2 separate regions of the Homo sapiens genome follow, and region 2 is linked to region 1. The links come from fine-mapping of genetic effects on gene expression. A gene starts in region 1. The other region holds a variant in brackets. All regions are shown on one strand. Distances are between the middles of the regions.

The links. PIP is the estimated chance that this variant, and not a neighbour inherited with it, causes the effect.
Region 2: its variant is the best candidate, but not a certain one, in a credible set for the expression of RGS7 in spinal cord (GTEx, PIP 0.63).

Annotation. Positions count from the first base shown.
Region 1 is chr1:241,355,472-241,359,864 of GRCh38, forward strand. RGS7 (regulator of G protein signaling 7) reads right to left here and starts at 1,734. Exons shown (of 19, transcript NM_001364886.1): 1 at 1,428-1,734; 2 at 228-355. The coding sequence starts at 305. LOC124904601 (a long non-coding RNA gene) reads left to right here and starts at 1,781. Exons shown (of 2, transcript XR_007067052.1): 1 at 1,781-2,011; 2 at 2,352-4,393. RefSeq lists a silencer at 1,586-1,635.
Region 2 is chr1:241,457,309-241,461,701 of GRCh38, forward strand. No RefSeq gene overlaps it. Among named protein-coding and RNA genes, the nearest start is that of FH, 60 kb to the right of the region's middle. The variant A/G (reference allele first, on the strand shown) is at 1,965.

The DNA.
Region 1 (4,393 bases):
CAAAACCAGCAGGGAACACGTGAGGAGGCCTCATTTACTTCAGTGTGTTTCCCCACATATGCATCATTTGAGAATGTCAGATCACTTTCACGTATATAGTACATAATCACTGATGATCTGGGAAATCCACAAGGCCACAAAGTTGATACATACTCTGATCTAGAGGGGGAAAAAAATCGAGAAAGCCGGAAGTTTCCCGTTTTCCAAGAAACTGAAGACATTCTTACCTTTCTGTACACCAGCATGTTGGGTGATTCATCGGCCACCCCGTTGCTGGTCTGCCCATAATTATTCCCCTGGGCCATGTCACCCAAAACTTGGTCCACTCTCAAGATACAAGAATTATCAGTGTGCCCTGCAAAGGGTCAGAGAGACTTCAGTGAGATCCCAGTGGGACTCCCCTGATTCATCATCATCATTCACAGCACCCACCCCACATGGCGCGTTCTTACAAACTGGGGCTGGCTGGAGAAAGTGACACAGGACATGGATTTTTTAAAAAGTGAGTTGACACCTACAATAACCTCAAGGAATTGTAAGAAATTACAATCTTCCAGGTAGAAATAGCCATTTGGTTATTGTTTTAGCTGACTTCATTTTCTGGATACTCATTTTGAGAAGTGTTTGATGCTCACCCTAAAAACTCGTGGGTAGCATTTTCCTAGTACAGAGTTCTCTTCTCTCCCAATACTTGCATCTGAACTTGGTGATGTTTTCCCCAAAGGGTGGAAAGGCAACACCTGGGGGATGCGGTGGGGGAGTGGGGGGCGGGTTAGCACACTTTCTCCTAGGTATCTGTCTAGTGTCCCCACCTGCAGCCCATCAGAGAGGCCCATTCCCGGTGTCATTCTCCAGCGCACGGGCTTCCTCTCTATTCCCCCGGGTCTCCCACACAGAGCCGGAGTATATGCTTCGCCTACTTTCACCTGCCTGCGCTGCCAGCCACCGGCTGCTCTCCTTTCTCCCCACTTCGCTTCGGAAGTCCGGAGGTAATCCTGCCTAATTTTTGCAAGAAGACACCAGAATATGTCCCGGCAACAAGAACTAGTGGGAGGTCAAGCCTTCAGGCCATTTTACCCGGGTCACCGTGGGTAAAAGCCTAACTGCAGAAGCCTCCAGAGCAACCAGCCAAAGAGGAGAAAACAGGCAAGCCCCTGCTCCCCTTGCTCGCTCTCACGGCAGCAGCAAATGGCAGGCGAGCCTGTGCCCCGCGCCGCGGCGGCCGCCGGAGCCGGGCAGCAGTTTCAGCACCGTGGACCGCGGGGTGCGCGCGGCGCCCGTAGCCCAGCCCCGGCGCGGGGCTCCCGGGGGCGGCCGCCCTGCGCCCGCGGACGCTCCCGCTGCGCAGAGCGAGGGCTGGGTGCGGGCCGGGGGCCGGGAGGGCTCTGGGTGGCGCTGCCTCCTCCCCGCCCGCCTTCCCTATTTACCTCCTCCGCCAAGGTCACGGCCCCGCGGCGTCTCCCCTCCCGGGCGGGCTGGGTGCAGGCGGTGTCAGCTGGCGGCAAGCGGAGCAGCGAGGCAGGGTAGCTTCATCACACTCGCGGCGGATGCGGATTCCGCGCCGCCCCGGCTCTAGCTGCTCAGGCGACCGCCACCCTCGCCTCGCCGCCGCCCGTGCACAGGCGGCTCCGGCAGCCGCCACTCGCGCCCGCTCCCCTGGGCCGCCTCGCTGGCTCTCTCCCTCCTCCGCTTCTTCTCCCGGGGACTGGGACCAGCCGAGCGCGCGCGGGAGTCGAGACGCCCGGCCCGTGCGCGCGACTGGGAGGAGGGAGGAGGGGACAGTCACGTGGGACAGGGGCGTCCGAAGGTGCCGGCTCGGATGGGCTCGGCTCGGCCGCCGCCACACCGCCCGGGCCTCCCGGGCCTCCCCGGCCTCCCGCCCTCGCGCCCCTCGGGAGGCTGTAGTCCTGCCCCCGGCGCGGCCAGCCCGCGCTCCCGCACACCCCGCCCGCTCGCCCGCGCGTGTGTACGTGCGCCGGAGGCCTGGAGAGACCGGAGTTTAACGCCCAGTGTAAGCCGGAAAGGGAGGAAGGCTGTGCGATGGGTGGGTGGGTGGTAGGTGGGTGGGTGGTCTAGTGAATGGATGGACAGATGGACGGACGGATGCACGGATGAATGGATGGATGGAGCCCCGTGCAAACCAAGGTTTCATCACGTGCCTAACGACTCCGCTGAAAGTCCCAGGGAAGCAGATGATTTATTATTATTATTATTATTATTATTATTATTATTATTATTATTATTATTATGCTTAAATAACAGAGTAGAGAGATATTGAGACACCCTAGGAATGAAGGAAATGGCCAGGACCAAATGAATCATTCATCCCCGTTTGCCTGCGGTTTTCACAGCTTCTTCCTAAGTTGGAGAAATGGGAAACGATTTGAAAGCTGCCAACCGGAGGTGAAAATCTTGCCACTTGTGAAACTGAAGGAACATCCCCAAGGCCTGGCTTCTCCTTTTAACAGAAGGTGCTCAGAGGAACTTTCCTCTTGCCCACTGCCCTCATCCTCTAGCAATTTTCAAAGAGCTTCTGAGGTGCTGATCCTCCTAGCTATAGTCTTCGTACTGCTGCCACAAATTCTTCTGTAAGGATTAGAATGACATAAAGGAGACAGATCACTTTTGTCTCGGTGGTAGTAAAGCAACCTGTGCCTCTGGCTTTCAGGGGGAAGGGCTGGGCCGCTGTAAATCTAGTTTTCCTTCCTCTCCTGGGCCAGCTGTGGAGGAGAGGGAGGGAGAGAAGGAGAAGATAATCAAGATCAGCTGTAAATCTAGTTTTCCTTCCTCTACTGGGCCAGGTGTGGAGGAGAGGGAGGGACAGAAGGAGAAGATAATCAAGGTCAGCCTTTCCTGACCCCTTGGTCTAAGCAGACTAGACCTTATTGGAGATAACACTTCTACTCAAACAGGGGTCCATGTGGACCAATGTATTACCCCAGCCCCATGCAGGTCTTGTCAGGTTTCTCTCAAGGAACAAATATTTATCTAACCTAGCCCCTGTTCCAAGTACTACAGGAGAAATATCATTGTCCCAAACTACACACACTCTAGTCTGACCTGTCTCCCACTCCAACTCCCCACATCTTTCCACTGTAGCCTCTGGAACTTAGAATCTTCTTCAGCAAAATTCTCTTCGTTTTCGACTTCTCGAAATATTTCTTTAACGTTTTTGCTCTCGCTGAAATCTACTTATCCCTCCTTTAACCCCTCTCTCTTCCCTCTTGTTCAGTCTGCTCCTGAGAAGTTGATGTGACTTGCATGACTTGGATTAATAAATTTGCAAATACAACTGGGTATGCTCACTCAGTTTGACCATTTTCCTCTTAAGAGAGAACCGCCTGAAGGAAGCAGTCTTCCTCCTCCTTTGCATCTCTGGGTAAAGTTTCCATCCTCATAGGAAGCTGTACCCAAGCTCTATATATAGAGAGCCTATATATATATATAGCTCTATTTATCATATATATAATTGGCTCTATTTAATTTATATATATAAATTATACACACACATAAACATACATATATATAATATCTCTTGACACCCTTTCCACTTATTGCCACCCTATTTTCCTTCTTCCCTTTATGCCAAAATCTTTCCATTCCATGTTGAACCTGTTCCACTTTGGCAAATGACCTCCATGGTGCTAAGCTGATGGTCAATTCTCAATTGTCATATGAATTGACTTTTCAGCATAAATTAACCCGGACACCACTCTCTATTATTTCTCTTTCTGCATTACTGGCTGCTTTTTCTCACTCTCATTGCTTGTTCCTCTTTGTCTTTTTGACCCCCAAATTCTGAAGCATCTTGGATCTTAGTCATTAAGCCTCTTCTCCTCTCAATTTACATGCACTGTACCTAAAGTGACCCAATTCAGGCTCATACATTTTAGTATTTCATTATTAAACACTAATAACTTCCAAGTGTATATTTTTAACCAGGATCTATCCCCTGAAATCCAGTCTGTCAAATGCTCACTTTACATCTCCACTTGAATATCTAATTATGCCTGATTCAGCTTGAAGATAGCAAGGATATTGTCACTGCCTCAGATCCTAGGCATAGTATAGTTGCTGGTGCATAGTAGATGCACAATAAACATACATTAATGAAATGAATGGATGTATCTAGTAACAGTAATCTGATAGGTTCTTTTGTATTTTGCAATTGTATTTTTTTTTGAGATGAAGTCTTGCTCTGTCACCCAGGCTGGAGGGCAGTGGTGCAGTCTCTGCTCACTGCAACCTCTGCCTCCCAGGTTCAAGTGATTCTCCTGCCTCAGCCTCCTGAATAGCTGGGATTACAGGCACGTGCCACCATGCCTGGCCAATTTTTGTATTTTTAGTAGAGATGTTGGCCAGGCTGGTCTCGAACTCGTGATCCCAGGTCATT
Region 2 (4,393 bases), 100 kb after region 1:
ATCTCACATTTTTATATAGCCATTACGTATGTGTTTTCAAGGTAAGCAATAACTAGTCTTCAAATAAGAGGACTTGACAGCACCAACTGTCACACAAAGTTCATCCTAACTTTACCTAGGCATGGGGCTGACCACCTGTATTAGCTAATTGGCTTTATCCAAAGGAAGAAACCAACTTCTCATGTCTTATATTGGGAGGCAGTTTTGCAACTTGGAGCAAGATACTCACTGAAGTCAGACTTCTACCCTGACACAGAAACTGGGAGATGGGGGTGCTAAGTCCTTTGATGTTTACATTTCAAAGAGATGGCTGCCAGGTCCTTGGGAAAGACATTCCAGGATAACAAAGCTGAGGAAAGTCCTACCTAATCTTCAAAAGGATTTAAATACATTTCAAAGGGAGAAGAAAATACTTACAACTAGAAGTTTTCTAAGGTAAATGCTTAAAGAAAAAGGAAGAGAGGAAAATCTCTTTTCTTATTTTCAAGAGGAATAATTAAGCCTTTTAATTTTAGTTTGTACATAGTAAGTCCTCAATTAATGTAGTGGATAGGTTCTTGGAAACTGACTTTAAGCAAAATGATAATGAAACCAATTTTACCATAGGCTAATTAATATAAAAAAAGAGTTAAGTTTCTGTGACTTTTCTGGTCACAAAAACATTACCAAACCTCTAACAAAAGACTGAAAATACTTCTAATATTAAACCTTGAAATAAATGAGAGCTACACATACATTTAAGAAAGATCAATAAAAACAGGTAAGATAATTATTTACCCAATTTCTGGAATCAGTGAGTGAAGGCAACCATAGGTAGTTTCAATCAAGGAATAAATGTTTTCACAGCTGAAATCATAAGGAGCACCCCCAGTCACCACGTGGCTTAAAAAACCAACAATCACATATGGCGGCTCACTGAGTGCTTTATTGCTGCATCCTTTATTGTTGTGCCTTTGTATGATTATTGTATACTTTACACATTTTTCTTTGGCAATGACTTATGTTTACTCATTTACTCATTTTCCAACCCATTCATTCCAGTTCAGGGTCATGGGTGGCTGTGAAGCCCATCCCAGCAGCTCAGGACTCAAGGCCAGAACCAGCTCAGGACAGGACACCATCCCATTGCAGGGTACAGTCACACACACACACCCACTCTCACTCACACTGGGACCACATAAACACACCGTTCCACTCCACGATGTGAGAGGAAATGCGAGTATCCAGAGCAAACCCATACAGACAAGCGGAGAATGTGTAAACTCCACAGAGAGTGGCCCCAGATGGGAATCTATTTTTTTCTTCCAATGTTAAAATGAAACAAAGTTATGCTAGGAGCCGCTGCATTTTCATGAAAAGGTTCTGTTGTAGAGGCTGGAGGGGTCATGAGAAACCTGTGTGAGCTGGAGTTACGTGGTAACACAAACAACGAATAAGCAGAAACTATAAGGTAGATAGAAGACACCTATCTCAAGATCCATATAAAGATCTATAATTGAGAGAGTGCTAATAGAGATGCATGAGAAGCAGGCATGTGCCAAGCCACTGAGACTATCTGAGCAAATTCACCACTTTGCTGTTGCAGTTGCCTTCAACACGGAACCACCGCTTTCCAGGCTTGGCTGTCCAGATACCCCTGAGCTCCCCTGTGTATATATTATCACAACAACCACCACTCCTTCCTCCATATACATGCAATTACTTGAAGGAGCATGAGGTAGGTCTTCATTTCATGGCTAAAAAAGCACTTGCTTAAAACATGATGGAAACAGTTTTTCCTGAAGGGCTTTCTGGAAAACCTGGGATGCTACTGCGCTGAACACACTGTCATCCAGATAAAAGTGACTCTTCCTGGGGAGCCTTGAAATCCAGAACATGGGAAGGTCATTCTGTGGATTCAGGATCACTCTGACAATACTAAAAAGGGCCTACACAGTGTTATATGCATGCAAATAAATGTCCTC[A/G]GGTGCAGGAAGGACATTTATACTAGCTCTGGTTTGTGAAAGGCAATCTTTGATTGTCTTAAACAAAGGGTTTTTTTGTGTTGTTGTTTTTTGTTTTGTAAGATTCTTGGAATCTGCAACTCTAAGCAAAATGACATGTGATGACCTTGGCTATATGTTGTTGGTAAGACCTCCTTGGTAAGAATTTAATAGAATTAGCCTTTGTGCAAGGTATTCATCTGTTCGTCTGTTGCTTTGCTTATTTGTTCAACCAACCAACAATTTCCAGGCCATGCAGGGTTCTATGCTGAGAACACAACAGCTGATAAGCTAGACCAGGGCCCTGCTGTTGAGGCACTTATATCCCACTGGGAGACAGAAAACAAGCAGAGGCATATAAAGACAATATATCAGCTGCAAAGTTCAGGGGGAAATAAAGCAAGGGAGGGTGGATACTATCTCAGACACTGTTCAGGGAGATCACATATTATCTTGTGTTCATTATCACTTAGGCCAGCAGTATGAGCTAAAACGTGGCAAATAACATTTTTTCCAAGGGTCAGAAAGAAAGAAAGCACTGTAGATGACTGGAGTTGGTTTCTCTAAAGAAGTAAATATGAAAATTTCCTTTCTGGGCTACAGAGGTGTGGCAGCTTTTAAGAACCTTTTCTCTAGCTTCCCTCAGAGATCACTTAAAGAAGCTAAATGAGGTATCTAGTCTTTGTCATTCCTATTAAAGATCCTTCATCACCGAAGGACCCCTGACACATCTTTCAAAAGTGATCCAGTCATAATGCCCTACAGGAGGGCAGTGCTGCCAAATGGGGAGAGCATCAGTCTAGCCACCCAGAGACCCCAGTCCTATTCCAGATTGATGCCAGATACTTATTTTTATCCTTATATGATGTGTCTGGTCCACCTGAAGTCTCAGTATCAGTCTCAAGTAGATGAGATCAGGGAGTTCAATGCTGTGCTTTGTGTGAACTTCAATACAGTGAATGCAAAACCACTTCTGGGGTTGTAATGCAGCTGATTTCATGCATGCCTGCTTCATACATGTCTGCTTAACAAGTAAGATCAAATCAAATCAAATTATTTAGTAACAGCACTGACTTCCTTGTCCTTGATAGGCTTCTCTTTGAAGCAAACAAAGTGGAAGAAATGGTGATATGATTTCTGTTGTAAACTGTCTCGTACTCTATTTGGTGAAAGTGAACTGCTTTTTATAAAATAAATGGCTAGGGTTGGGGAGTTTCGATATAACTCTTAAAGGTAAAGGTTTTGCGTCCCTGGAATGAAACGCTCAATAAAGCTATTACTCCCCTTGGTGGCTTTCCAGAGTCCTGTACCTTTGGGATTCACTTTCCCTTTTCTGTGTTTGCACAGTAGTCCCTGGAGGACTCTTGCTGAGGACACTTAGTGATAAGACATTACTTGTTCAGGCTCATATTCCCTTCTGGGAGAAACACTATACCAGGCTTCCAACTCCATCTCATCCCACACACGGAGACTTCACCATCCTGGCAACCTTACTGTGCTACCTTTGACCACAAAACAGGTAAGCACTCAGGGCCAGACATAATAAATCTTGTATGGTGAGGATATCTACGATGTCTGGCACAATCACATTGTTTGAATTTATAAATGATTAGAGCAGCAGTTTGTATTGTTCATATTAAAGTGAACTCACAGAATCATTGGAAGTTAGCAAAAAATAAAACAAACCCCAAGTAAAGTGATAAATATTAAATTTTGGAGTGTCCAGACACCAAATGTGAGTACAGTCAAATGCAAACTCTAGTAAAGAAAATAGGCTGGGCATGGTGGCTCACAACTGTAATCCCAACACTTTGGAGGCTGAGGCAGGAAGATAACCTGAGATCAGGAGTTCAAGACCAGCCTGGGCAAAGTGGTGAAACTCTGTCTCTACTAAAAATACAAAAATTAACTGAGCATGGTGGCAGGCACTGGTAATCCCAGCTACTCAGGAGGCTGAGGCAGGAGAATCTCTTGAACCCGGGAGGTGGAGGTTGCAGTGAGCCAAGATCTCACCATTGCACTCCAGCATGTATGACAAGAGTGAAACTCTGTCTCAAAAAAAAAAAAAAAAAAAGAAAGAAAGAAAGAAAGAAAAAGAGAAAAGAAAATACATCTAAGTTGAATTGTTCAAAACAGGCAGCCCTCTATGGCACCAAGTGAGCCGGGGGTGGTAAAAATTGTCCAATAAGAGCAGATGTTCTCTGTCAAGAAAAATTGAGATTAAAGAGGATTTGGACCTGATTCATCCAAACAATTACAATAGCTAGAGCACTCATTTCTCATACTCTTTCTTAGTCCATTTTCTACTGCTATAACAGAATACCACAGACTGAGTAATTAAAAAAAAAGTGTATTTGGCTCACAGTTCTGGAGGCTAGAAGTCCAAGAGCATGATGCTGACATCTGTCAAG